4 linked regions of the Homo sapiens genome follow. The protein of the gene in region 1 interacts with the protein of each later gene in a pairwise test. Each region holds a gene or a part of one and is shown in the gene's direction. Other genes may lie near its edges.

Evidence for each region.
Region 2: the proteins of CAMK2D (region 1) and FKBP1B interact in binary tests that used the Homo sapiens proteins (3 or more experiments, as listed by UniProt).
Region 3: the proteins of CAMK2D (region 1) and TNPO3 interact in binary tests that used the Homo sapiens proteins (3 or more experiments, as listed by UniProt).
Region 4: the proteins of CAMK2D (region 1) and TNPO2 interact in binary tests that used the Homo sapiens proteins (3 or more experiments, as listed by UniProt).

Annotation. Positions count from the first base shown.
Region 1 is NC_000004.12:113,450,724-113,457,746, reverse strand, and holds the end of CAMK2D (calcium/calmodulin-dependent protein kinase type II subunit delta), read left to right. Parts: intron 1-183; coding exon 184-412; coding exon of another isoform or gene 413-416; exon of another isoform or gene 417-559; intron 560-1,925; coding exon 1,926-1,992; 3' UTR 1,993-2,021; intron 2,022-3,231; coding exon of another isoform or gene 3,232-3,235; 3' UTR 3,236-6,715; downstream 6,716-7,023. UniProt on the Homo sapiens protein: Calcium/calmodulin-dependent protein kinase involved in the regulation of Ca(2+) homeostatis and excitation-contraction coupling (ECC) in heart by targeting ion channels, transporters and accessory proteins involved in Ca(2+) influx into the myocyte, Ca(2+) release from the sarcoplasmic reticulum (SR), SR Ca(2+) uptake and Na(+) and K(+) channel transport.
Region 2 is NC_000002.12:24,045,006-24,052,761, forward strand, and holds the start of FKBP1B (peptidyl-prolyl cis-trans isomerase FKBP1B), read left to right. Parts: upstream 1-4,735; 5' UTR 4,736-4,844; coding exon 4,845-4,881; intron 4,882-7,756. UniProt on the Homo sapiens protein: Has the potential to contribute to the immunosuppressive and toxic effects of FK506 and rapamycin. PPIases accelerate the folding of proteins. It catalyzes the cis-trans isomerization of proline imidic peptide bonds in oligopeptides.
Region 3 is NC_000007.14:128,954,112-128,961,134, reverse strand, and holds the end of TNPO3 (transportin-3), read left to right. Parts: intron 1-3,668; exon of another isoform or gene 3,669-3,819; coding exon 3,820-3,880; 3' UTR 3,881-3,911; intron 3,912-5,749; coding exon of another isoform or gene 5,750-5,768; 3' UTR 5,769-6,950; downstream 6,951-7,023. UniProt on the Homo sapiens protein: Importin, which transports target proteins into the nucleus. Specifically mediates the nuclear import of splicing factor serine/arginine (SR) proteins, such as RBM4, SFRS1 and SFRS2, by recognizing phosphorylated SR domains.
Region 4 is NC_000019.10:12,699,910-12,706,932, reverse strand, and holds part of TNPO2 (transportin-2), read left to right. Parts: intron 1-137; coding exon 138-363; intron 364-414; exon of another isoform or gene 415-484; intron 485-565; coding exon 566-737; intron 738-1,164; coding exon 1,165-1,251; intron 1,252-1,333; coding exon 1,334-1,441; intron 1,442-1,534; coding exon 1,535-1,693; intron 1,694-3,131; coding exon 3,132-3,219; intron 3,220-3,261; exon of another isoform or gene 3,262-3,336; intron 3,337-3,406; coding exon 3,407-3,505; intron 3,506-4,014; coding exon 4,015-4,110; intron 4,111-4,755; coding exon 4,756-4,861; intron 4,862-5,081; coding exon 5,082-5,181; intron 5,182-5,260; coding exon 5,261-5,335; intron 5,336-5,479; coding exon 5,480-5,587; 3' UTR 5,588-5,607; intron 5,608-5,689; 3' UTR 5,690-7,023. UniProt on the Homo sapiens protein: Probably functions in nuclear protein import as nuclear transport receptor. Serves as receptor for nuclear localization signals (NLS) in cargo substrates.

The DNA of each region.
Region 1 (7,023 bases):
TCATTCTTTTTTTGCTTTGTACAGTGCCCAGTACCCAATTAGTACAAATAGTAGATTAATTAACTAATTAATTAGTGAGTGAATAAATGTCATTTCATTCATTGGTCCTAACTGAAGTTATTACTGGTTTTAGTTTCCTTTACATAGAAACTAAATTTTGCTTTTCATGTTTTTCTCTTTCAGCTTTGTCCAAAAGCAATAAACCAATCCACACTATTATTCTAAACCCTCATGTACATCTGGTAGGGGATGATGCCGCCTGCATAGCATATATTAGGCTCACACAGTACATGGATGGCAGTGGAATGCCAAAGACAATGCAGTCAGAAGAGACTCGTGTGTGGCACCGCCGGGATGGAAAGTGGCAGAATGTTCATTTTCATCGCTCGGGGTCACCAACAGTACCCATCAAGTAAATATTTCCAGGCTGTCAGCTTCTTTGTTAATACACCCATGGTCAGCTCCTTCTACTTATTCCATTGTTAATAGCATGGTATATGTTATTTAACGCTAGTAGTTGGTTACACTGATGAAAATAAATGCCTTCACGGGAAAGGTTTATGATTCTCTGGAAAGATCAATCAGATCAGCCATTTGTGGGTTGAAACTTGCTATAGAGCAGTATATGATAGGTTTAGACAGGACGAGAGACTACGTGATCAAAATCTCACAGGGTTAAATCTAGAGGACTTGTATAATAAGGCAAAATATTTGTGACTTCATCTTCTCAATTGACAGAAGAAGGGGATATCAGAGGAAAACATAGGGAGGAGTTTCTAAAATGGCCAATATATTATCAGGAGTTTCATTTCATAGATGATCCCCTAAAGCTCAGTTAGAGAGACAGCATTTAAAAGGCCATTGTCAGGTAGTGCAATGTCATTCTCACCTCACCACTCTACCTCAGATATCATTTGCTTTTCCAGTCAGCGATTAGGCACATATTTATTGTGAATCACCTAGGTGCTTAATCTGTGCCAGATTCAACACAAAGTACAAGATATTGCTTTCAAGAAACATGTATTCTCATTTAGCCAATCATTGATTCTAAAGAAAAAAATGATATAATAAAGTTTATCATCAACTTCAGAATACAGTAGAGTTAATGAACAGTGTAGTAAACTGTTTATAACAGTTTGGAAGTACACTTTGTATATAAGATAGAATTTTGGACAAAATCTTAAATGATGAGTAGAATTTAGAGACATAGACTGAAAAAGCAAAGGAGGATGGATAGTCCAAGCTAAATGAGCATCATGAAGAAAAGTACAATATCAGGATTTAGTTTAATATGATAGAACATTATTGGTAAGGAAGGCCGGTTACAACTAAAGAGGAATAATTGAAAATAGGCTTATTGGTAAAGTGGAGTGAGATGAAAACAAGAAGAGTTTAAACTCAGTGTAGAAGTTGGGTCCACTGTTGATCTCTTTCCAAATTCTCTCACCAGGATCACCTGTTAATATTTGAGATTTGGAATGGGGGTTCATACAAACAGCCATTCAACTCACTCCAGAGAATCCATCATGATTTCTTAGTTTGGTAGCATACCACAGTGGTTTTCAGAGGCCTTCTGTATAGCCTTAATAATTATATATCACTGTTAGATTTGTAAAAAGTGGGTCAACAGGGACAAAAATCAAACCAAACCAAACAATAGGCTGAAATTTATTCCCAAAACCATAGCTATGTAATTAAGAGAAAAACACAAGAGGAATATGAAGATAATGAAGACACCCGTTTTTGTGTGTTTTTCACCCCAAAGAGGTACAGCACAAATCGCCAGTTAATATAGAAGGGGTTACATTCATACAGTACCAGGGGTTTAGGTTTTTTTGCAGTTCCCTGAAGTGTTTATGGGATGAAGCCTATTCAAGAAAACTTCATTTTATGCCAGGTGGCTTAAATGGGGCTTCTCTTAATAGGCCACCCTGTATTCCAAATGGGAAAGAAAACTTCTCAGGAGGCACCTCTTTGTGGCAAAACATCTAAGGCCTGAAAACCATTCACATATGGGTCTTGTAAGTAACATCCTGCTCCGTGATACTTTGTGACTGGAGCTGAATGAAAAGCTGCATGGCTGTTTTCCTTCCTTTTGAGGATATTTTTTATTGCATAATATTCAATGAAAAACGCACAAGGTCTTTGAAAATTCATAGCAATTTTGCATGAGCTTTTGAATCTAACATTCAGCCCTATTTGGTAGCATAATCCTTATTTTAAAGGTAATAAACACTGAAAAGAATTTTTTCCAACATGTGGATTGTGTCATGTTAGAATCCTGAAGTTTTCACATCAAAAGTAAATTATGTCTGGGTCAGTTCAGATAACTCTCAATTATCCGGACTTAATTTATATTAAGCTTTAGAATCCTTTGGTGTCTTAACCATTCTTTCAAGAGGTTGCAGTTCTGTAAGCAGCTGGCTATGGCGAATGTGTAAATCAATTTGCTGTGCCTGACTGAGTATAATGGTACTTGACCATGAGGACAGGCCACAGGAGGAAGTCAAGCTGAAATTTAAAACTCACAAAATGGGTAATTCCAGAGGATAATTGAAAGTTGACTGTAATTAACTTCATGCTTTTGTTGTTGTTTTTAATTAATTGTTTCTTAGACTTGGGTTACAAGCATTCAGATATGTATGGTGCTGTTGTGAATATTTGCCTCATTCAGAGAACTAAACCTTATCAGAGCTTTTAACAAATAGTGCTCCCAGCTGTTGCTTTCAGCAAAGGAGATCTCCAATTAAAGAGAGTAATCATGTTCTCTCTACTTTCGAGACTATATTCCTTGTTAAATTGACTTCTAGGTTTCATTTCCCAAGGAATCTAACAATAATAACAGAAGCTAAGGATGAACTTGAATTTTAAGTCTATTTCAACAAAAGGATTATATTCATTTACTAATTTGTCCAGTAAACAGGAATGCTTAAGATGTATACTTAGATTTAATAATGTGACTGAAGACTGTGTCTCTGTCTCTTTATTTTTAGCTTAGCTTTGTGTGAAAAAATAATTAATACTGATCTTCTAATTTAATACTCTCTTTGTGTAACATTGTATGTTTCTTCTTGTAATGATCACAAGCAAACATCTCTTATACATAGTGTTTTCAATCTATTTGTTAGCCAAGTTATAAAACTGTAGCCTAGTCAAATCTATGGCAAAGCAATTTGATGATATTTTGTAAAACAATATAATTTATTTCTTCCTCCCCCTTTCTCCTTTCAGCTAAATTTCAACAGTGCCACTTCTGCATTCTCTGTTCTCAAGGCACCTGGATGGTGACCCTGGGCCGTCCTCTCCTCCTCTTCATGCATGTTTCTGAGTGCATGAAGTTGTGAAGGTCCTACATGTAATGCATATGTGATGCATCATCTTATCATATATTCCTTCCTATACATTGTTTACACTTCAACTACGGGGATGTTCCACACAAACTTAAATTACTGTTGGCAAAACAATAGGGGGAGATTAGACAAAAAAAAAAATCCACAATATTCCAAGTACAACTCTTCATCAAGTTTCTCTGTTAATGCCAAGATTTAACAGACTTAAGAACTATTGTTCTCTGAATGACAGTTGTAAGAGAAATGTAAATTTTTTAGAACTCTTTGCTGTTAATCTGTTTTGGTTTGTTTGGTTTTTTTTTTTTTTTTTAAGGTAAAAAAAAAATACACCTTCAGTTTCCTGGTGTGATCCTGGTTAAAATGGATGATTTTTCATTGAAAGTTTTGCTGATTAACAATTAAAGTGGGATGATATGTGGGCAAAATCACTTATGAAAGTAGAAGCAAGAATCAGTTGGTTTGCTACCACATAAAGCCATGCTGTTTTTGGTCAAACTGTGTAAACTGGAAAAATTCACATCATTTCTGAGTTTAATCACTTTAGGATATATTCACATTGTTTTGGTGAATTTGCTGAATTGAATTGTTTTTCTTTCTCAAATCTGTGATCTCTTTTCTTTATCCTGTTTCTTTGTTCCTTTCGTTTGCTTTCTTATTTTTCTTTTGTTCCATTCTTTTCTTACTTTTTTCCCTTTTCCTTTTTTGGGGAGGCTGGCTAGTAGTGTGTGAGAAAAGAATAGAAGTGAAATTTGCATAATGAATGTAAAAGGGAAATAAAAGTCTTTTGAAGGTAGCTATACTAGCACTTTTGATCATCTTCAGGGCCCACAAAAATGTTGTCAAGATTTTAAAGGTTTATAATTCTGCTTAAGCTCTAGTTTGGACTTAGGTATCCTAACTATGTTGGAGGTATTTGCATTGTTTAAAGTTAGGATAAAAGCAAGTTCCTCCTGTGACTGCAACGTCTTACTGATTGGGACAGTTGCCAGGAGGATACCAACTTGATAGCAGAGGGGGTTTTATGCAAACGCACTCACCTCCGCCTTGGGGAATGAAAGGGTCACTTCTGCATCATCACTAGCTAGTTTTCTAGTGTTAGAGAGGCTTACAAATGTTTGCCATTCTCATAAGTGTTTTGAACTTGATCTTTGTGACTTGTGCTTTTTTAGCTTCTCTCTTGAATCAGAGTATCATTGTCTTCCTCCAAGGAGTTAGAATTTCCCAGTTTAAAACAAAAAGGGAAATGTCCTAGGTTTTCTTTGTGCTTCTCATTTTTCCTTTGTTGATTCAATTCCTGTGATTTTTGTTCTCTTCCCTGAAGTGCTTTACAGTGCATGGAATCTCCATCATTGTTATTTTAACGATAGTAATTCACAGTCCTCAGAAGCCTATTTTTAAAGCAGAAGCAAAAAAGAAAAACAAAATAACAAAAACAACCCTTCCTCTTTTCTCTCATCTCACCTCTCTGTGTTGATTACTAATCATCTTAGATATTATTGCTAGTGGATGTATGGTAGATGGGTTGAAGCTTTTCTGATAATTATTACACAATTTAAAACAACATATATATTTAAAATAAATATATACAGTAAATATATTGAGCCATGTTAACCTGCCAATGAGATCTGTGAAAAAATAATGGCCTCATTTTTCTCTTTTTAATTTCTTTTACCCTTTTGTGAAGCAGCTATACGTGGCATACATGTATTTAAAGAAAAAAAAATAGATGTAGAGTGTTTTTTTTACACTTTTAACTTAGCATGTGGTGTTGAAGTATTACTGTAGATCAAGTTTGTCTTCCGCACTAAGATGTGAGGAAATTGTGATTTGTTCTCTCCACCACAAATGAATTACACATTTATTATCTTCTATCATTTTGAAACACTGCAGTTTACCATGGGACACTGTATATATTTCTTGCCATAATGGTAAAGGACTGATTGATATATTTAAGAGTTAATAAATTTGTGATTTCTGCTGACAGTGCGTCCATCTTTATTTCTTCAGAAGAGGTACTGTATGTATGCCTGCATAGTGCTGGCCAGTGTCAAGGGCAGTGTGTCCTACTCTGGTCTCATTTAGTACATAACAATTTGCACTTGGTGAGAATGGCAAGTTAATTGTTCTCTGTGAGCAAAACAATGGTCTCTTCTGGGAAAATGTTGCTGAGAACAATATAGTTAACAACTAAGACTCCTAAAAGCTTCTCTAAACTGTACCCTCCAATCCAGCCTTCACATGGCTGCTTTTTTTTTTTTTTTTTAATACGAACCTGTCCTTGTAACACTTTGATGTTATCATTTCTGGGATACAGGCAAGCACCCCAGCTCCTGCTACTCCCCAGCTTGAACTTGAGCATACATGGATGCTCAGCTTCTTTTGATTTGCTAAAAACATCACACTTGCTCACATGCCTGTTTATGCTGTTCATGTTGTTTATGTTTCTTACCTAGAATAAATAGTCTCTTCCCCTACTTCTTTTCCCGACTTCTTACTTTTTCCTAAGATTCAGTGTACAGCATCATGCTCCACAGCAAACCTTCCTAGGCCCTATTCTGGGCTTGCCTTCCCTCTCAAAACCTACATAATAGATTGTATTTACCTCTCCTGTCAACCACATTGTTTTGAAAATATATTTCTATTTGTGTCTCCTCTACTGCAGTATAATGTCTCCATGGGCAAGAACTGTGTATTCATCATTGCATTCCTAAACCCAAACCAAGGCCAGGAATGGAGATATCATTGATAAATAGTTGTTGAATTGAGGCCAAGCCCTTTTGATAACAGAAGCCTCAAGGGGTACCCAGATAGTCCTTGTTTTAATGATGGGTTCTCTCACCACTGTCTTGATGCTCTGAGCAAGTTACCTCTTCCCTCTGACCCTCAGTTTCCATATTTGTAAAATGAGAATAAACATACCAACTTAATAAAGATATTGTGAGGATTAATGGGTACAGAGTGACTAGAATGATATTTGATAGAAATTAAATGGTAGCAGTATAACTATTCTGATCACTGACATTAATATTCCTATTGTTATTATTCTTTGCTCACGAGGGTATACAACTCTTGTTTTGCTGTTGGGCTGCCCTCTTTATGTAGGTTTACTGTTAATGCTGAGGATATACTCGGACTCAAATGTCTCAGCAGAAGGCTGAGAGACACCAAATGAAGTGGTCATCTAGCTGAATGTAGGAAAAATGAAATGTAGTAGCAAATCAGTATATTCTAAGGAAATTTTCAAGGAATATTAATCTTCACCCAAATTTTGAATTTTTATGTAAAAAATTATAATTTAAGGGTAAACATAGATGACACAGCTTTCGAGTGATTTCATTGAATAAAATTCTACTGACTTCTATGAACCTTTCATGGCTCTGTGGTCTTTTTATCAGATTTTTTAAAGGTGAGAATGTACAAAAAGATTACAATGAAGATCAGCGTACTAGACCATGTGTCCATGAACTGAACAACAGCTGTCATAAACCACCCTAACCTGAGAAAGCAGCAGGAAGCATTTACAGCATTCCTGCTTTTCTCTCAGACAAAACCAATTCTCAGAAGAGAGCTAGAATGTTCTCCTGCAGACTGGAGTAGGAAAAGTTGATAACAGATTAAGCAGTAATTGTACTCCAGAAGGATTTGCATTTAGGCTTTTGCTGCTTTACAACAG
Region 2 (7,756 bases), on another chromosome or scaffold:
CTGAGGAATTTGGAATCTTGGGGGAACCAGCATATATTCAAGTAACAATATGCAGAATGGACCTGAGAAGGAAGAAAGTTGACAAGTAATTTGAATGCCACAAAGTGAAAATGAAGCAAGTTTGCAACTATTTCAGTAGAGAAAGAAGGCCATATTCAAGAGATGCTTTTAAGGCAGATGGAATAGACAGTGATATCGATAGGATATAAGTAGTGAGGAGGAAAAAAGAATTAAGGATAACACCCAGATTTTTAGCTTGAGAAACTGCTGAACCATTAACCAGAGCATGTTTCAAAGGCAAGGAAGGCAGGGCAGGCTGGGTGTGGTGCCTCATGCCTGTAATCCCAGCACTTTGGGAGGCTGAGGCAGGTGGATCATCTGAGGTCAGGAGTTCGACACCACCCTGGCCAACATGGTGAAACCCTGTCTCTACTAAAAATACAATATTAGCTGGGCGTGGTGGTGTGTGCCTGTAGTTCCAGCTACTTGGGAGGCTGCAGCAGGAGAATCGCTTGAACCCGGCTGGCGGAGGTTGCAGTGAGCCGAGTTTGCGCCACTGCACTCCAGCCTGGGTGACAGAGCAAGACTCCATCTCAAAAAAAAAAAAAAAAAAAAGAGAGAGAGAGAGGAAGGAAGGAAGGAAGGAAGGAAGGGGGAGGGGGAGGGAAGGAAGAAAGGAAAGGAAGGGCAGGCACAGTGGCTAACACCTGTAATCCCAGCACTTTGGGAGGCTGAGGTGGGAGGATCACTTGATGCCAGTATTTCAAGACCAGCCTAGGCAACACAGGGAGACCCCAATTCTACAGAAAAATTTTTAAAAATGAGGTGGGTGCTCACTTTGGCAGCACATATACTAAGACTGAAATGATACAGAGCGTAGCATGGCCCCTGCACAGGGATGACTTGCAAATTTGTGAAGCGTTCCATAAAAAAGGAAAATAAAAAATAATAAAAATAAAAATAAAAATTAGCTGGGTGCAGCGTCCCACACCTGCAGTCCTAGTTACTATGGAGGCTGAGAGGATTTGAGCTCAGGAGTTCAAGGTTACAGTAAGCTATGATCACACCACTGCATTCCAGCCTGGGTGACAGAGTGAGACCCTGTTGGGGAGGTGGGGGTGGGGGCAGTAGGGGAGGAACGTGTGTAGTATGTGACAAATTGAAATTAACATGTGCTTCATGTAAGATGTCTACATGGTACCAATGTACCTTAGGCAGTCAGAGGTAAGGATTTGGAAATCACTGACATAGGGTTAATCATTAAAGTCAAGGTAGTGGAGAACCTCACTGTATAAGATCAGAGGGCCAGGAGGACCAAGGTTTAAATGCTCTTCAGGCATTCCCCAACGCTACTGATTTTGCCTGAAACTAATTGTATACCTATTGTTTCACAATCTCCAGAGTATAAGTTTTTTGGAGAACATGAAATCAAGAACCCTGGGTGTTTTAGGAGGGAAAAGACCACTGTATTAGTTCAGGTCTCCGGAGAGGTGGTCAGAAAACTAAGAGCCGGTGCTCAGTATATAACCATTTAATTCTGTTTTTCATCTTCTTTAAAGACAACTCATGACGAGAATCAAGGGATTCAGGTGAACTGGCATTTCCAGCAGGTTTAAACAAAAGTACATCCCTCCCCCAACTTGTTTTCCAAGTTTATTGTATTTCCACTATAAAATGATTTCAAGTTCTTTACACTTATTTGGAAACAAAAATCATACACAAGAAAAAAATTAAGAAGAGTTAACGAAAAAACATTCATCCAAAGAAAATTATGACTAATCCCTCTAGACTCTTCTATGCATAGTTTGGCTGTCAAACTTTTTCAGTTATACTGTGCAACTTTGTATCACGGTTTTCATCTAACATTATATATTAGCATTTCCCTATGTTATTTAAAAGTTTAATAAATTAGTTTTAGAGGCCACTTCACATACACTCAGTGAAGTGACATAATGTACTGAACTGCTCCTAGCTGTACCCAACTTTATCCCGCTACCCGCTATAAATAAAGCTCGGACCGAGGTCTTAAGGCTTAAAGCATTTCCTGACTTTGGATGACTTCCTTGGGACATATTCCCAGGAGTGTTATTCACGAGTCACGGTCATAATCCCTCATTTACACCCACCCCTAGCTCGATCCTCATCCCGCGACCCCTCACACGCGGCCCGCCCCATTCTCCTCATCCTCTCTGCACGCCTGAATCTCCTCCTTCCCGCCCCCTACCCACCAAGAGCCGATCCACTTCCCTCCTGACCCCCTACAGCCTCCCCACACCCGCCAGGCCCGGCAGCAGTGGAGATGAAATACCTTAGGTCTCACTGCCTCACAAAAACACCAATCTCTCTGTGGCCGCCCAACATCACGCCGCCGCACATAAGAAGTTCTGGGCAGCCACCGGAAGCACCGGCCCTCAGTCCTCTGATAGGTGGGCGGTGATATCGGTCCTCTGATAGGTGGGTGGTCCTCTGATAGGATAGGCACGCTCCGAGATGGCCCCGTCTATTGGCTTTTGAATATGCACATTAGCAGAGGGTTCGTCCCACTGGCCAATAAGCTCTGGCTCTGCCGCACGGATCGCTGGGAGTGGTAGTCCCCGTAAAACCACCGACCGCAAGCCCGCCACATTTTCCCTCCCTTAAGCACTTGAGCTCTTTCCCCACTTCTCGTCGGTTCTCTTGTCTAAGGAGTCCAGGAGCCCTAGGATCACCACGGCTTTTTAACCTTCTTTAAAATCTGATAAAATCTCTCAGGAAAATGTTCTTATCTGTACACAAAATACTGTGCATTGAGCTGAAGCCGCTGCATGGGCCTGTCCCAGCTACAAATCCCTGTTCTACCCCGACCCTAAGCGTGCCTGCTCTGGCCGCAGCCTATGGATTTAGTGCGTCCCTTAGGCTTCTTCAGACCTATGAGGAATTCCAGGTCCTGACCCTCACAGTACAGTCGACAATCATCTTTCTTTAACAACACAGCCAGAACACCTTCAGGGATGCAGACAACCTCATCTGGGACCTAAGCATCCGGGAGAGTGGGGATGAGGAAATGGAGGAAGAACACCCTTGGGGCTCATTCTGGACCAGTTTGCCAGGCTTTTCTCCCCATGCCTATCTTCCAGTGCCACTCAGGAGAATCATATCTTCACATCAGTTTTTATGTTTTTCTTTTTCTTTTCTTTTCTTTTTTTAAAAATAAAGATGGCATGCCTGTAATCCCAGCACTTTGGGAGGCTGAGGCGGGCGGATAACCTGAGGTCGGGAGTTCGAGACCAGCCTGGCCAACATGGTGAAACCCTGTCTCTACTAAAAATTTAAAAATTAGCCGAACGCTGGTGTCTCACGCCTGTAATCCCAGCTACTTGGGAGACTGAGGCACGAGAATCGCTTGAACCTGGGAGGCGGAGGTTGCAGTGAGCCGAGATTGTGCCACTGCACTCCATCCTGGCGACAGAGTGAAGATTCTGTCTCAAAAAAAAAAAAAAAAAAAAGGAGAGAGAGAGAGACGGGATCTCGCTATGTTACCCAGGCTGGTCTTGAACTTCTAGGCTCAAGCAATCCTCCTGCCTCGGTCTCCTACAGTGTTGAGATTACAGGTGTGAGCCATTGTTCCAAAAATTGATATACTTGGCCTCACATCAATTTTTGGAACAATGCAGGTAATAATGAGGGGGAAAAAATTTTAAAAGTCCCAATTACCCTTTAAACAAATATTACCTCCTCCAAAAAATATTTTTCTAGATTCCTGAATGTATTTTTTGGTGGAGGAGGAACTCAAAGTAGAATTCATTTACATATTCATTCATTCATTCCACAGCACTAATCACTCCATGCAGTAACTGTGTGTCCCCGTCCCTCTCAGACTTAGTACCTGGAAGACAGCCAACCTGTCTTAATTCTATTGGTATCCCCAGGGCGCATTTCTTTGCCTTGAAAATTGAGTACCCAATAAATGTGCGTCGAGCAGAACTACACGAGATGGAGAACAGGGGTTTAGGGGTATGGGGGAGAGTCAGCAATTACTGGTGTCCTCCCTCCCTCCCCCAGCTCTGCTCCTACAGATCCAGGACGCCTAGCGAGGGTAGGAACCTCTTCTGTGCTTCCGCAACGCTCTGAACTGCACGGCACTGAGCGCATCTAATTAAAGTGATGGTTTCATTAGATAGCAACACAGCGAGACCCCGTTTCTACAAAAAATAAAAATAAAAAATAAAAGATTAGCTGGGCGTGGTTGCTCGCGCCTCTAGTCCCAGCTACTTGGGTGGAGGCTGAGGAAGAAGGATCGCTTGAGCCTAAGAGTTCGAGGTTGCTGTGAGCTATGATCGCGCCACTGGACTCCAGCCTGGGCGACAGAGCAAGATCCTCTGTCTAAAATAAAAATAAAAATAAAATGATGGTTTAATCGCCGGCCTTTGCCCCTTCTGCCCCCCACCCCCCACAAGTCTGTAGGACTGGGTTGACTTCCCAGAGCTTACTACAGATTAGATGCTAAATAAATGTCTATTGGACGGATGCGCGAATGAATGGATGGATGGAGGATGTGGTTGTGCTTACCACGCTCCCTGGTCAGTGGGTTAATGTCGTCAGGCGGGGCCAGGCTCGCTAACAGCCGGGCGGGGTCCCTTCCCCCGGGCCCCGCCCCGGCCGACCCCACCTTTCCGCGCGGCTCCGCCCCGCCGCCCCCTTGCCAGTGGCCCCTCCCCGCGCAGGTCCCGACTCCAGCCGCACCTCCTCCGGCTCTGCAGTGGCGGCGAGGAGGCGAGCCGGAGCGACGGCGGGGCTGGGGCCGGAGCCGAGCCGGGGTCGGGCAGCAGCAGGGACCCCCCAGAGGCGGGGCCTGTGGGACCGCTATGGGCGTGGAGATCGAGACCATCTCCCCCGGAGACGGTACCGGGCTCCCTCCGGAGCCAGGGGAGGGGAGGGGTCCCGGGGCGGAGCCCGGAGGGCGGGGGTCTGATTCGGAGGTGGCGTGGAGGGTGCTGAAGGGTCGGGGGGCTGGATGGGGAAGGCAGGCGGAGACGCCGGACGGGATTCTTGGGGGTCTAGGAGACCATCCTCCGCCATCCTCTTCCGCGCTCACCTAGGGGAATGTAGGCGGCAGCTCGGAGGCGGGGGTCTGCGGCCCGGAGGCGGGGGTCTGCGGCCCGCCACCGCCCCGGGCTTCTCCTGTCGCGGCTGCAGTCGTTCGGTTATCCGCTGCTGCTGATACCCCAGCCTGGGTTTCGGCTTCGCTTTCCCTGCCCTACTCGGCGAGCTCTGGAAAGCAGGACCTGCTCTCGGATACCCGCTGCTCGGGGACCTCCTCCTAGCGCGTCCCCCGCCGGGCCTCCCCTCGGTCGCTTCCCTGCGGGCCGGGCTGTGAGCGGCTGTGGGGACAGACCCAGGCTGGGGAAGGGGGAAGCGCTCCCTTGCCCGCTTCCGGATCTCGCTTTATCCTGCCGCCGCTTTCAGACTCCCTGGCCACCCTGTCCACTCCCATGGCCTCCACATTGAAGCTTCTAAGCCCAGCCCTGCGACCTACGGCCGAACCTCTCCCTGGACGTCCCAGGGTGCTCCCTGGTCAGCAAGTCCAAAACAGAACTCTCGCTTCCCACCTTCTCTCCTAAGTGATCCTCTTTATCCCCCTTCCGTGTCTCACTTTCCCAAGTCCTTGTATTACTGGGTCTGGGTGTGCAAGGAATAGCCATTTCTTTATTTCTTGAAATTTAATTAATACCAAAGCCCCCATTGTCTGCAGGGTTTGATGGGCAAACTTCATATCAGATATTATTAATATGAACAGCTCCCCTCCCCAGGAAATTGGATAACTTCTTGGCTCCAGGCCATCTTCCTTGTCCAATCCCAGCCACTACTTCAGATATCCCCTGGAGTACAGGCTTCTTTGCCCACGCAGGAAACATTGCTGCTGGGTCCCAGAAAGCATCTCCCTGAGGCCTTTTCATCCCTCAGCAGCCCCTGAGCTAATCTCCCCATCTTCAGTCTCTCCTCCCTGCTTTCAATCTCGTCCCCAATCTCATATTCACTCCCTTTCTATATCATAGCCTGAAGACTCTTCTTAAAATGCAGTGGCTCACGCCTGTAATCCCAGCACTTTGGGAGGCTGAGGCGGGCGGATCACAAGGTCAGGAGTTCGAGACCAGCCTGACCAACATGTTGAAACCCCGTCTCTACTAAAAATACAAAAATTAGCTGGGCATGGTGGTACGCACCTGTAATCCCAGCTACTCGGGAGGCTGGGGCAGGAGAATCACTTGACCCTGGGAGCCAGAGGTTGCAGTGAGCTGAGATTGTGCCATTGCACTCCAGCCTGGGTGACAGAGCAAGACTCTATCTCAAAAAAAAAAAAGAAAAAAAATGCATGTTTGACTATGCCCCTCCCTCAGGCAGAAGATGTTTTAATGATTCTTCCCTCTCCCCCAGGAGGGGCCTTTGGTGCTATGGTCTATTCTCATCTTCCACACTAGAGCTTCATCTCTCACCACCTGTCCTAAGCCCACCACTAACTTTTTCCTCCAGCTTTCCCAAGCTGCCTGCAAGTTGTCAAACACACCACTCGTTCAGCAAATATTTATTGAACGTGTGTGCTAGGCCCTAAGGTGACACAGTTGAAACAGACAGGGTTCCCGCTATTGCTGGACTGAGGGCCTTTGAACATGTTACATGTTGTTCCCTCTTCCCAGATGGTGTTTTTTCACTTCCTCTGGCAAACTCTTACTTGTCTTTCAAGACCTGGCTTCACCATTCTCTCCTCTATGATGTTTTCCTTGACTTCTGTGGTCAGTTAGCTGCTCCCTCCTCCAGGATCCCATAGAGTCCTCTAAATATCGGCTCTGTGGTTAGGCTTCCTTAGGCTTTGTATCCAGCCCCGTAGCTTTAAATTCCAGCCAAATTTATACCTCCAGTGCAGACTCTTCATCTGCCTACTTGCAATATAAACTCAGATGTCTAATAGGCATCTCAAGATTGCCACCCGCACAAATCTGTTCCTCCCGTCTTCCCTATCTCAGGAAATAGTTGCACTATTCATCCAGTTGCCCAAACAGAAAACCCAAGCATCGTTCTTGTTGTCTCCTTTGTCCTCATCCTGGACCCCATTTCCAGTCTGATTGCATGACCTGTCAGCTCCGCTTCGAAAATATGTCTCCAATCTTTCACTCTCTTCTCTGCTGCCACCACCTTAAATCAAGCTATCATTGATTTCTTGTCTGGATTATTGCAACAGACGCCTAACCGTCCATCCTACACATAGCAGCCAGAGTGATGTTATAAAATCTTAATTCAGATTATGTCATTCTCTGGCTTAAAACCCTCCAGTGGTTTCCTATTGCACTTAGTATTAAATCCGGCTCTTCAAGCCCTGCATGATCCATGTCCTTCCCACCTCTCTCCTCCCTCCCTTCTTTCCAGCACCTAGCCTCCTTGCTCACTGCAAATGTGTTGATTCTGTGCACTTGTTACTCCTTTCCCAAGTGCTATTTCCCAGTATTTTGCTCATCCTTCAAGTCCCAGCTCCAGGGGGCACCTTCTCCAAGAGGCCATCCTGGACCACTCTGTCTGAAATGGCCTGTCCCACTGCATCTCCCTTTAATACATCATTGTGTGTATTTTCTTTAGAGTATTCATCATAATCCATAATCATTTTGTATATTTAAGTATTGTCTCTGTCCATTAGAATATAAACTCCAGGGCGGGTTTGGTGGCTCATGCCTATAATCTCAGCACTTTGGGAGGTTGAGGTGGGAGAATCTCTTGAGCTCAGGAG
Region 3 (7,023 bases), on another chromosome or scaffold:
TTTATAGATACTGTATACTTAGGCTACACTAAATTTATAAAAAAATTTTTTTCATCAATAATAAATTAACCCTTGGCCAGGCGCGGTGGCTCATGCCTGTAATCCCAGCACTTTGGGAGGCCGAGGCAGGCAGATCACTTGAGGTCAGGAGTTTGAGACCAGCCTGGCCAACATGGTGAAACCCCATCTCTACTAAAAATTTAAAAAATTAGCCAGGCGTGGTGGTGGGCACTTGTAATCCCAGCTACTCAGGAGGCTGAGGCTGGAGAATCGCTTGAACCTGGGAGACAGAGGTTGCAGTGGGCCGAGATTGTGCCACCGCACTCCAGCCTGGGCGACAGAGTGAGACTCTGTCTCAAAATAATAATAATAATAATAATAATAAATTAACTCTTGCTTACTGTAACTTTTTTACTTTATAAACTAAATTTTTTTTAACTCTTGGACTCCTTTGTAATAACACCTAGCTTAAAACACAAATTGTACAGCTCATTAAAAAATTTTTTCTTTATATCTTTATAAGCTTTTTTCTATTCTTAAAATTACTTTATTTTTTTTTTTTAGCTTTTAAACTTTTTTGTTAAAAGCTAAGACACAAACACATATTAGCCTAGACCTACACAGGGTCAAGATCATCAATATCACTGTCTTCCACCTTTTTACATCTTGTCCCACTTAGAAGGTCTTCAAGGGCAGTAACACACATGGAGTTGCCATCTCCTAGGATAACAATGTCTTCTTCTGGAATCCCTCCCGAAGGACCTGCCTGAGGCTGTTTTACAGTAAATTTTTTTTTTTTGTAAGTAGAAGGAATATACTCTAAATTAATGATAAAAAGTGTAGTATAGTAAATACATAACCCAGTAATATAGTTGCTTATGATCAATTATTGTATACTGTAGATAATTGTTTGTGTTGTCCTTTTATATGACTGGCAGTGCAGTAGGTTTGTTTATACCAGCATCACCACAAGCATGTGAGTAACGCAACATGCAGTTGTTCATCTCTATTATACTCATAGGATCACTGTCATACATGCAGTCCATCATTGACCAAAACATCATTGTAGCACATAACTATAGTTCTAACATTCATGGAGCTTTTTCGTTTTTTTGAGACGGAGTCTTGCTCTGTCGCCCAGGCTGAAGTGCGGTGGTGTGATCTCAGCTCACTGCAACCTCCACCCCCTGGGTTCAAGCGATCCTCCAGCCTCAGCCTCCCGAGTAGCTGGGATCACAGGTGCCCACCACCACACACGGCTAATTTTTGTCTTTTTAGTGGAGATGGATTTCACCATGTTGGCCAGGCTGGTCTCAAACTCCTGACCTCAGGTGATCTACCCGCCTTGGCCTCCCAAAGTGCTGCGATTACAGGTGTGAGCCACCGCGCCCGGCCTCAAGGAGCTTTTTGATCCATTTCTATGGGCTCCCCACCAAGGACACTTCAGTTAAACATTTGGCTGAAGTGTTTGACACCAAAGCACTTGCAGATAGGATTGGGGCAGAAGCCAAGTTGACAGTGTCACCTGTCCCTCATTTCACCCTATCGCACTAAAGTTCTCCCACACTTGCATTTCAGTTTCAATACTTTTTCTCATGTGCCACAAAGGAGGCTGTGAAGTTATCATTTCCAAAGTCTCTGCTGGGCACAGTGACTCACGCCTGTAATCACAGCACTTTGGAGGCTGAGGCAGGACGATAGCTTGAGCCCAGAGGTTCGAGCAGCCTGGGCAACACAATGAGACCCTGTTTCTATCTGTTCTGAAAACAAAACAAAACAGAAGTCTCTTGAGGAAGGGTAAAATTTAAAACATGTAAGACATTAGGATAGCAAAAAAATCTCGGTCTCCAGCACTGTCCTAACTTTCAGGGTTTTCTGTTATCCTAGTCCCTTGTGATAACACACCACATAGCAACTTCTCTTGGGTTACAGATCTTCCTCCTTCCTGACATTGGGAGCATGAGTGATATGGGCTCACATACCCTGGCTGCCTCCTTAACAGTCAGTATTAATTTGGAAGTAAAATGAGAAATGTAACACTTAAATTGAAGCTTATTAAATCCACAGAGGTAATGGCAATTCCAATAAAGCCAAAAGACCTTTCTCATTTTCTTTCTTTTTTCTTTTTTTTGAGACAGGGTCTCACTCTGTTGCCCAGCCTGGAGTGCAGTGGCACAATCATGGCTCACTGCAACCTCAACCTCCCCAGCTCAGGTTATCCTCCTGCCTTAGCCTCGTGAGTAGCTGGGACCACAGGTGTGCACCACCACACCCAGCTAAGTTTTAAATTATTTGTAGAGACGGGGTCTCCCTGTGTTGGGATTACAAGCATGAGCCACTGTGCCTGGCCACCTGCCTTATTTTCATTACATTTTTAGGATGGAGAGACTAGAAGAAAGTTTCTAGAATGTTCTGTTGAATCAAGTCATGGAGTCTAAGTCAAGGTTCTTAATGATGTTTCAGAACTTACAATGGATGGGGAAATCTGGATGTAGGAACCTAAATGGATAGCTCTATTTTCACCTTTTCTGTTGGATCGCTTAGAGCAGTTTCCTCCCCTGGTGTTTAACCATTATGAGATGGAAAGTGTGTTTTCATCTGCATTGAATCCTTGGCTGTAGGCACTGGTATCTGAGTTAGTTGAGCCAGGGAGAGGGCTACAGGAAGGCAAGCATATTAAGAATTGCTTCCTGGCTGGGCGCGGTGGCTCATGCCTGTAATCCCAGCACTTTGTGAGGCCGAGGCGGGCGGATCACAAGGTCAGGAGTTCGAGACCAGCCTGGCCAACATGGTGAAACCACATCTCTACTAAAAATACAAAAAAATAGTCGGGCGTGGTGGTGGGCACCTGTGATCCCAGCTACTGGGGAGGCTGAGGCAGGAGAATCGCTTGAACCTGGGAGGCGGAAGTTGCAGTGAGCTGAGATCGTGCCATTGCACTCCAGCCTGGATGACATGAGCAAGACTCCATATCAAAAAAAAAAAAAAAAAAAAAAAGGAAGTGCTTCCTTCTCCACTGCTTTAGCTTTTAGCTTAGCCTTATGTTCATTTAGCAAAAACTGTTATGAAGACAGATACAGTAGAATGAAGCTGGCATCAGCTGGTTTCTTGGTGACAGTTTTGGACAAAGGGAGGTCGGGGGGCTTTTGAAAAAACAGGGTCAGTTGAATATTGGGCTATTCATATCACATAGGCATCTCCTGCTTTGTCTCTCTTTCTACATGCTTTAACCCTTTCCTCTCTCCCTCCTCCTCCCACAGGAGGAAATCCTGAGCAGCCTGTTCAACTAGAAAATCAATGACTGGTGGAGACTTAGTTGCTAGACCGGCCTTTGTAAACAAAATCTATCTTTGGAAGAGAATGAGGAAACTTATGAGAGCCGTAGCAACCAAGTGTTGTTGTAGCAGCCTACATTTATTGAATACTATTTTGTTCACTGCTCTATTTTCATAAGCACTCTGTATGTGGACGATTTTAATCCTCTAAACAGTGTTATGAAGTAGATAATATTAATAGATGAGGAAACTGAGACAAAGATTGGTAACTTGTTCAAGGGCACAGTGGAGCCAAGATTCAAACTCGGGCAGTTTGTGTCCAGAGTACACCCTTTGAAGACCACCAAGCTTATAACTTTTCTCATATATAATAATTTTTGCCCTGAATTACAGAAAGATCTGAAGCCAGGATCGCTCAGGAGACGATGGAGAGAGCTCCTAGCAGAGTTGGGACGGTTCTCAGTGTGCCCCAATGTTGCAGTTGTTTTTCAGCATATTCTGTCTTTCTCCTCAGTCAAGGACCAACCTACCTTTTCTTTTCTAGTGCTGAGGAATGTAAACAAGTTTGCTGGGCCTTGCGAGACTTCACCAGGTTGTTTCGATAGCTCACACTCCTGCACTGTGCCTGTCACCCAGGTGAGGATACATAGTTCCCAGCTTTTGTCCGGACTGTCGGACTGTTGGGGATGCCTGGGAATGGGGATAGGTTTTAATGCCTATCATGGGACCAGTCTTATAGCTAGAGTCAGGGAAGGACTCAGCAGTTTAACTGTGGTGAACAGCTGGAATATACAGGGCCCGGATTTTCTTGGGCCTGGGCAGCCAGTAATTGTCAGTGTCTTTGGGGTACCATTTTCACCTCCATAAGAAAGTAACTGTTACACAGTGCATTGAAACATTTTCTTCCCCCTTCCCCTTACAGACACTTCTAAGATGGTAAGTGTACATGGCAACAAACAAATAAGTATTTTTAACCTGGCCACTTTGGCGAAAACAACCTCAAGTTGACTGTTATATGTGGTGCCAGTCTCCTAAAACTGACCCTCCAGATGTAATGAGCAAAGAGCTTATTCTTATCACTTTTATGACCTGAATGCTGAAGTGCCAGGTTTTGACCAGGGCAGGAGGTATGAATTGAATATCCCTTATCCGAAATGCTTGGGATTTCGGAGGAAAAAACACTTTCAGAAGTGTTTTTCAATTTTGGATTTTTTGGGATTTTGGAATATTTGCAGAATGCACACCAGTTGAGCATTCCTAATCCAAAAATCCAAAATCCAAAATGCTCCAATGCTCATTCGCTTGAGGGTCATATCAGCGTTCAAAAAGTTTCAGCTGTTAGGGATGCTTGGCCCTTACAGGAGAGGAGGAGCATCTTTGGCTCCCGATGAGCACTTTTCTCCACGTGCTTTCCGTCTCCTGGTTCTGAAGCAAAGCAAGAAGCTTAGCTGAAAGGAGTGGGTAGTAGAATTTGGGTGCCAGTTTCTTGATGGAGAGAAGAAAGGTAGCTCTCCTCTAAGCCCACCCTTTGATGTCTCAAGGTGAGTTTCTTCTCCCAGGAGGCAATTCTTGATGAATCTGTAGCACTCACTGGTAGTTTCTGTGTTAAATGCATTCATAGGTAAAAGTGATGTTCAGCAGTGCCTTGCCACACCCAAAATCATTTCTCAACTTTGATTGTTTTAATGAGTAATAATATCATTTGGGATGTCCTGGTTTTGCATGGTGTCTGGGTTAGCTGACATTGATACACCTCATAAGGTTGCTCATGGACAGCTGTAGGTGTTCATGGTTAACTTTTATTGTGCCCTTACTGTGTGTCAGGGCACTGTTTTAAGTGTTTTAGATGTATTAACTAAGATAATCCTCATCTGCTTTTCTGGATTTGTTACTATTTTTCCCATTTTACAAATGAGGAAATTGAGGTTCAACAATGTTTAACAATTTGCCTGACAGTTATTCGTGGAGCCAGAATTCACATGTAGATATTCTGGTACCAGAGTCCTCACTTTGAACCACTCCGCTTAATACAGTATCCTTTCGATAGCATCTAAATTGGTGTTTTGTTTTGTTTTGTTTTCAACTGTTATTAGTAGGCAAAGCCTTCTTTCAAAATAAAATCGACATGAAGCCTGTGGGATTTAGCAGACTGAGGCAAAGCTTCCCTGGTTGCTTTGGAATGGGAGGCCTGGACCTGCTGGCTCTTTGCCCTCCTGACACATCATCCCTTGTTTCCACAGCACACTCAGCATTGGAAGCACACTGCAGACGGTGTCTCATTAAAGCAGTAGCTCCCTTGAACCCACAAGTTAAAACGCCAGACTTTTATTTATTTGTTTATTTTTTCTGAGTTCTTATTGGCAGACTTCAGAATGAGGTACCTGAGGAAATATAGAAACCTCTGCCTTAAGGTTGATTTTACTAAATGCTCTATTTTCTGGTGCAGTTATTGACTGTCTTATCTCTTTTGTCAGGAATGTCTTTTTTAATTAGAAGACAGGAAGAAAACAAAAACCAGACTGTGTCCCACAATCAGAAACCTCCGTTGTGGCAGAGGGGCCTTCACCGCCACCAGGGTGTCCCGCCAGACAGGGAGAGACTCCAGCCTTCTGAGGCCATCCTGAGGAGTTCCTGTTTGGGGGTGTGAGGGAAAATCAGCGCGGATTTTAAAAAGATGGCTGTGGCCTGCCCGGCGTGGTGGGAGGGGAGCTGGTTTCCTGGTGAACTTTCTAAAAGGAAAAATAATTTTAAGTAAAGAAAAAAGAAAAAAAAGGAAGACTAAACAGAAACCAGAACTGAAACATTCACCTGGTAGCAAATGACACATGCACGCACACACACATACACGCACAAGCGCCAGTGCGCACGTGTACACAGAAAAACAAAAGGACAAGCTTTCTGTGAAACAAAATATTTACTTAGGGATAATGTGGGGATTCACATGAATTAAATAGCTGCAATTGGAAGAAGAGGGTCAGGGTCATTTGTTCAGGTTTTCTATTGTTTTGTCCTCTCTTTCCTCTCCTACCCTTCCTTCTCTTTCTCTCTCCCCTCCTTTTAAATGCAAATGAGTAGAAATTTCTTCTACCTTCCCCAGCTGTTTCTTCCCACCTTTAGAGTTGTTTAGACAAGGAGGAGTAAGCAAGGAACTTGTTCTGCTTTCTATCGTGGTCACATTGGTGATGCTCGGGACCTGCCAGGGTCAGAATTTATGGATATCTGAACCCTGACCCCGTTCATTCTCTCAGTCCACTTCCAATCCACATCAGTTTGTTGTCTGCCTTGGAGAGAAGAGCCAAAACTGGGGTGGGCGGGTGGGTGGGGAGTGCAGGATATAAATGTGTAAGTTTTTGTTTTTTAAGGTTTTTTTCTTAGTGAATTATTCACCCACAGACATGAGAGAAAAAAAGAGGGAGGGTGTGTGGAGAAAAAATGTTTACAGGGCTAACAAGGGATGATGTGTCATTTAGTATGTTACTAAAAAGTGTGGAAATGACTTGATTTTAAGGGGAGGGTGAGGCCGAAGAGGGAAGCCCAAAGCAGATCTTAATGTTTCAAAGGAGTGCAGCCCTTCACAGCCATCAGATATGAGGGCACTGTTCTGTCTGGTGTTGTAGCCATCTCAAGAACAAATCAACAGCAACAAAAGAGAAAGAATAAATTTTTAAAATTTAACCAGTGTTTCTTTGTTTTTACTTTCATTCACTGCCTTGTAGCTCGGAAATGGTTCAGCTAGACTAGCTATGGA
Region 4 (7,023 bases), on another chromosome or scaffold:
GAAATGAGTCTGGGCCAGTGATTTAAACTCTAAGCCTCAGTTTCCCTATATGTTGTGTGCGGCTGACTCTTCTCTCCATACGGTGGGTGTGGCTGGGCCCAATCAAACTGCCCCCTCTTGGTTCCCTTTCCTTGTAGGCTGCATGCAGGGCATGGTGCCCTACCTGCCTGAGCTGATCCCGCACCTGATCCAGTGCCTGTCGGATAAGAAGGCCTTGGTCCGCTCCATCGCCTGCTGGACGCTGAGCCGCTATGCCCACTGGGTGGTCAGCCAGCCACCCGACATGCACCTCAAGCCCCTGATGACAGAGCTGCTCAAACGCATCCTGGATGGCAACAAGAGGGTACAGGAGGCGGCCTGCAGGTGACCCTGGACCCCTGATCCCACAGCCCCCACTCTCCCCCGGCCACCCTCTGGGAAGTGATGACACCTGTGACTGTTGATGTGGAACTGATTTATCGCGTATTCGTACTGGCTGATCCTGAGTTGCCCTCCCCAACTGCCCATGGCCCAGTGTCACCTGCCATGGTCCACTGAGCCCCCGCTTCATCCTCCCTCCCACCAGTGCTTTTGCCACCCTGGAGGAAGAGGCCTGCACGGAGCTGGTGCCCTACCTCAGCTACATCCTGGACACCCTTGTCTTTGCCTTTGGGAAATACCAGCACAAGAACCTGCTCATCCTCTATGACGCCATTGGCACCCTGGCCGACTCTGTAGGCCACCACCTCAACCAGCCGGTGAGACCCCAGAGCGGCTCCCGCCTCCCGATCCCCGTGCCCCTGGGCATCCAGTGACCTGGTGGCAACCCCGTGTTGCACGCCAGGGACGTGGCCGTGACCTCGACAGGCAGACAGACAGACCCGGCCCCGCCCTCGCCCTGCTCCCAGTCTAGTGGGGGAGAAAGACAGTTATGAGACAGCGTGGTAAGTGCTGTGCTTCGGGAACCAGGAGGTGGTAACCCAGGCTCCCGGGGGGTGGGGTGGGGCGGGCGGTGCTTGGACAGGTGAGAAGAATGAAGGCCTCGAGGTCTGGCCAGATGGCAGGCCTTTCAGGGTCCCATGAGCCACGGTGAGGCGCTCAGGCCTCATCACTCGGGCAACAGGTACCTGAGTCACAGTCTGCCACCCCGACCCAGGGAGCGCCCATTTCGTGCTCCCTCTCCAGGAATACATCCAGAAGCTGATGCCCCCACTGATCCAGAAGTGGAATGAGCTCAAGGACGAAGACAAGGACCTCTTCCCCCTGCTGGAGGTGAGTGGGCTCCTGCCCCTCACCCGAAACCCATCCTGCCCACCCTGCCTGAGTTCTCCCCACCTGCCTTCCTCCCTGCCAGTGTCTGTCATCGGTGGCCACCGCCCTGCAGAGTGGCTTCCTGCCTTACTGTGAGCCCGTCTACCAGCGCTGTGTCACCCTGGTGCAGAAGACACTGGCTCAGGCCATGGTGAGCAACCCTAGGCCCGTCACCTGTGCTTCTGCATTGGCCTGCCTCGGGCCTGCTCCACTTACCCGTGCCCCTGTCGGCATCTGTGTCTAGATGTACACCCAGCACCCTGAGCAGTATGAGGCTCCCGACAAGGACTTCATGATCGTAGCACTGGATCTGCTCAGCGGCCTGGCCGAGGGCCTGGGTGGTCACGTGGAGCAGCTGGTGGCCCGCAGCAACATCATGACATTGCTGTTCCAGTGCATGCAGGTGGGTGGGGACCCTGGACAGTGATGACACCCAGCAGCCTGCGTGGGCTGCCCCTGGTGGGGAGTCAGGGCCTGGTTGTGCCCAAAGGAAATCAGGGAAAAGGTGCTGTTCTAATTATTTTAAAGAGTAATCCTGGAGGCCGAGGCAGGATTGCTTGAGCCCAGGAGTTTGAGACCAGCCTGGGCAACATAGTGAAACCCCAGTTCTAAAATTAAAAAAAAAAATTTTTTTTAAAGCAAACAGTATTGAAAATAGAAAATGTGAGGCCAGGTGCTCACGCCTATAATCCAGCACTTTGGGAGGCTGTGGCAGGTGAATCACTTGAGGTCAGGAGTTTGAGAGCAGCTTGGCCAACACGGTGAAATCCTGTCTCTACGAAAAATACAAAAATTAGCCAGGCATGGTGGTAGGCGCCTGTAATCCCAGCTACTTGGAAGGCTGAGGCAGGAGAATTGCTTGAACCCAGGAGGCAGAGGTTGCAGTGAGCTGAGATCATGCCACTGCACTCCAGCCTGGGCAATAAACTGAGACTCTGTCTTCAAAAAAAAAGAAAGAAAAGAAAATAGAAAATGTGAAAGCCCAAGTCCCTGCCCCAGCACAGTTGGCTCTCTGTATCTGTGGGTTCTACATCCCAAGATTCAAGTAACCTCAGATTGAAAATACTCAGAGGAAAAATTACATCTGTACTGAACGCATACAGAAGTTTGTTCTTGTTATTATTCCCTAAACAATACAGTATAACAACTATTCCCATACTGTTGACATTGTATTAGATATAAGTGATTTAGAGATGATGCTAAGTGTACAGGAGAATGTGCATAGGTGCATATGCAAACACTATGCCCCCCCCACCGCCCCCCACCTGTTTTTTGAGACAGAGTCTCACTCTGTCACCCAGGCTGGAGTGCAATGGTGTGATCTCGGCTCACTGCAACCTTCACCTCCAGGGTTCAAGCAGTTCTCCTGCCTTAGCCTCTCAAGAAGCTGGGACTACAGGCGTGTCCCACTATGCCTGGCTAATTTTATTGTATTTTTAGTAAAGACAGGGTTTTGCCATGTTGGCCAGGCTGGTCTCAAACTCCTGACCTCAAGTGATCTGCCTGCCTCGGCCTGCCAAAGTGCTGGAGATTACAGGCATGAACCACTGCGCCTGGCCCTAACACTGTGCCACTTTATATCAAGGACTTGCACATCCGTGGATTTTTATATCTGCAGGGACCTGGAAAGAATCCCCCACGGACACTGAGGGATGACCGTTGGGGCACTGCCATCTCCCATTTGCAGATGTGGGCTGGAGGCTAGGGAGGTTAAGGAACAGCTAGGAGCTCTAGAACTGGAAAGTGGCAGAGGCTGGACATGCACCAGGGACTGTGCCCCCTGAGCTGTCCTGGTTAGAAGGAGGGGAGCCTAGCCACACTGATCTTACTTGAATCCCCAGGACTCGATGCCTGAGGTCCGGCAGAGCTCCTTTGCCCTCCTGGGAGACCTCACCAAAGCCTGCTTCATCCATGTCAAGCCCTGTATCGGTACGACACTCGCCTTGTCCCTAACCCATGACCCCAGCCCCGGCCTCAAGTGATGGAGAGCAATACCCGGGGATGACTGTGACCACATTGGGATGTATTCGTACTGTCTGATGGGGCCTGCTGGACTAGGTCCTGCAGCTTACCCTGGCTGGCCCTCCTTCTCAGCACCCCTGTTTCTCCCCACCAGCCGAGTTCATGCCCATTCTGGGCACCAACCTGAACCCAGAGTTCATCTCCGTCTGCAACAACGCCACCTGGGCCATTGGTGAAATCTGCATGCAGATGGGTGAGTGCCCTGCAAGTGGCAACACGCGCCCCCCATTAGCCTGTTCTCAACCTGGGGGCGGGAGCCTAGCTCTGACTGACAGCTTCCTTCAAGGCAAGTCTCTTGGGGGTCGTCAGGGGTGGAGCCAAGCAGAAAGGTCATTTGTGATTGGCTTCTCTAAAGAGGAGGGATAGGAGGGCTGTTCTGATTGGACCGTTTTGTGTAGTTGGCTAAAAGACTCATTCGGATTGGTTGGGTGACTTTGGCTTTTTTTTTCCTTTGACTTGGGCAGCGTGTTGTCACCTTAGCGACTCCAGAGAAGCCTCTGTTGTTTGGAGGGTGTGGGTCTGTCCCTGGTTGGCCAGGGATTCTGGGTGGGGATTAGCCGGAGAAGGTCTTTTGTTTCCTCACTGGTAGTGGTTGGCCAGTCTCTAGTTGGAACTGGGGCGAGTAGTGAGTGAGGTGGGGCGGCCCCCTGGCCCCTGTGGGTGGCGGGGGCTGTGCAGGGCTCTGACTGGGTGCTCCCCCAGGGGCAGAGATGCAGCCTTATGTGCAGATGGTCCTCAACAACCTGGTGGAAATCATTAACCGACCCAACACACCCAAGACACTGCTGGAAAACACAGGTGGGCACCTGGCCCGGCTGCTGCCTGCACCCCTGCCTGCCTTCTGGAGGTGGGGTTCTGGGCTGGGAAGGGCATCAGAAAGAGCCTTGTCAAGGAACCAAGGAGGGTGTCTGGAAGTACCTGGAAGGGGTCACTGGGAGAAGCCCCAAGAAAGATGCAGCCTCAGGCTGGGTGCAGTGGCTCATGCCTGTAATCTCAGCACTTTGGGAGGCAGATCACCTGAAGTCAGGAGTTCGAGACCAGCCTGGCCAACATGGTGAAACCCCATCTCTACTAAAAAATACAAAAATTAGCCGGGGGTAATGGCACGTGCCTGCAATCCCAGCTACTCGGGAGGCTGAGGCAGGTTGCAATGAGCCAAGATCATGCCACTGCACTCCAGCCTGGGCAACAGAGCAAGACTCCATCTCAAAAACAAAACAAAACAAAAAAAAACAAAAAGGAAAGGGAAAGGAAAGAAAGAAAGATAGATGCAGAGAGACCTGGGAAGTGACTCAGGTGTGATGAGGAGGACCCCTGGCTGGGCCAAGCTTGGGGGACCAGGGTGGCTGCAGTAGCCATTCCCTTGGGGCTCATGGGGCGGGGCTTGGTGCCTTGTGCCAGAGGCCCCGCCACGTACCGTCCCGGGGCCGCTCGGGGTTGCAGGTCGCCTGACGAGTCCCTCTGCCATTCCAGCCATCACCATCGGCCGCTTGGGCTACGTGTGCCCCCAGGAGGTGGCACCCATGCTGCAGCAGTTCATCCGGCCTTGGTGTGTGTCCACGTGTCAAGCCTGCTGTGTGGTGGGCGGGACTGGCCCAACCCCCTCCCTCGCCTGTGCATTTCCAGCCCCATCTGCCTACTGACTCCCTGCCCTGCCCCACCCCCACAGATGCATGTCCCAGGCCCACTCACTGATCCCCAGTGACCCAGCCCTCCACAGATGCATGCCCAGCCTGCCCTCTGACCTCCAGCTGCTCACCTTCCCACAGGTGCACGTCCCTCAGGAACATCAGGGACAACGAGGAGAAGGACTCAGCCTTCCGCGGCATCTGCATGATGATCGGTGTCAACCCGGGGGGCGTTGTGCAGGTTGGGGCAGCTGGGCTCTGAGGGCAGGCGCGGGCGCTGGGCTCGGGCGGCCCCTCACCTGGGATCCGTCACGTTTCAGGACTTTATTTTCTTCTGCGATGCTGTAGCCTCCTGGGTGAGCCCGAAGGATGACCTTCGGGACATGTTTTATAAGGTGAGGCTCTGTCTGGGCCCTGATCTAGTTCCGGGAGCAGGCAGGGGTGAGACCATCTGGTAACAATGGGGCCTGGGGATGGGGGAAGAGGCGCACTCCCCTTGTTCTGCCCCTGCCTACCCCTCACCACCACCCTCCCCACAGATTCTCCACGGCTTCAAAGACCAAGTTGGGGAAGATAACTGGCAGCAGTTCTCTGAGCAATTCCCGCCGCTGCTCAAGGAGAGGCTGGCGGCTTTCTATGGGGTCTAGGTGATCATGGAGACTGCCAGGTAAGGAGACTGCAGCTGGCAAGTCAGCACTGTCTTGGGGGCCGAAAGGTCCCAGGCCATGACCTTCCTCCTCCCCCTGCAGGTTTCTGTCTGCGTCGTCGTCGGAGGGATTACTGGGGAGTGCGCTGCATCCGGAAGTCGCTGTGCCCTGGTTGAGGGGGGTTAGGGAGGAGTGAGTGGGACTCAAATCCAGATGCCTTCCCCGTCCGTCCGTCCGTCCGTCCATCCGTCCACTTGCCCTCCTGGCAGGTGGGTGGGGCCACCATGCTCATCCTACAAACGGGGAGGTGGGGGGGACTTCTGGTGGGCAAGGGCCCCTGGGCTCTAATAGGGTCATCTCTGGCAGCCCACTTGGGCCAGCTACGTGGGAGGGAGGAATTACACAGCTGACCGAATCCGGCTTCGGATGAGGTGAGGGAGGAGCAGGTCAGGAGGGGGGCCCTCGTAGGGACGCGTACACTCACACGGACACACATGGCCACACGCATGTGCGGGTGCCATAACCGGCGAGGCTGGGCCAGCCGCTCCACCATTTCCCCGACTGCATGGAGACAGTAGAATTAGTGAACCCCTGAGTTAACCCGTAAGGCCTTCCGTGTAACCTGCATCTAGAGTTTAAGAAGCTTCTGCTGTTTTGCCGGAATTGGCGGTGACTGGGGAGGGCTGGGTGGGTGGGGGGCCTCAGGCGGGATCTCGGGGCGGGGGGAGGAGGATGGTGACCTTGGGAGTCGCCCTGTCAGCACGCACATGCTTGGGACCCACTCCACACACTCCCTGCCAGCTTTGTTGCAGCCTCAGCTGGTGGTGTCTCCGTCCTTATCCTAGCCTAGCTCGCAGGGTGAGAACCACTGGAGTGGCTGGGGCTGGCCAGAGGTCACCGTTTCTCCTTCCTGTGTGCTCCAGTGGCTTTTGAAGACACTGGGTTGGGACCTTTTTCCTGAAGAGAGCTGGGTGTAGCCAGAGCTACTGGCACCTACCCCGAGCATCTCTCTCTGTAAGCAGCTTCAGGGGCAGTCCGTTTCTCTGTGCTTCTGAAACCCCCTTCTCACGTTTCAGGCCCCAGTTTTAACTCAAGGCCTGGGGCAGGGGCGTTTAATTGATGATGACAGAGGACACAGGTTTTTGCCAGCAAAAAGGAAAACCAAGGCTTGGTGGAAGGGAAAGGTGGTGTGTCCCCTGTTCCCTATTCCATCTCCCTGGGACTTCCTGCTCATCATAGTACCCAGTGAGCCCAGAGATCCTACTAGACTGGGTCAGCAATTCTAGAGAACCTTCCGGAATAGTCTGGGAACATGGTCAAGGTGGAAGGGGCTCCCCTAGAGAGGGTGGGGGTGTAGTTACTTCCCAGTTGGCCAGAAAACTGGGCCTTGCAGACCCCCTTAGCATTTTTTCCCTTTTTTTCCTTCCCTGCTTTCT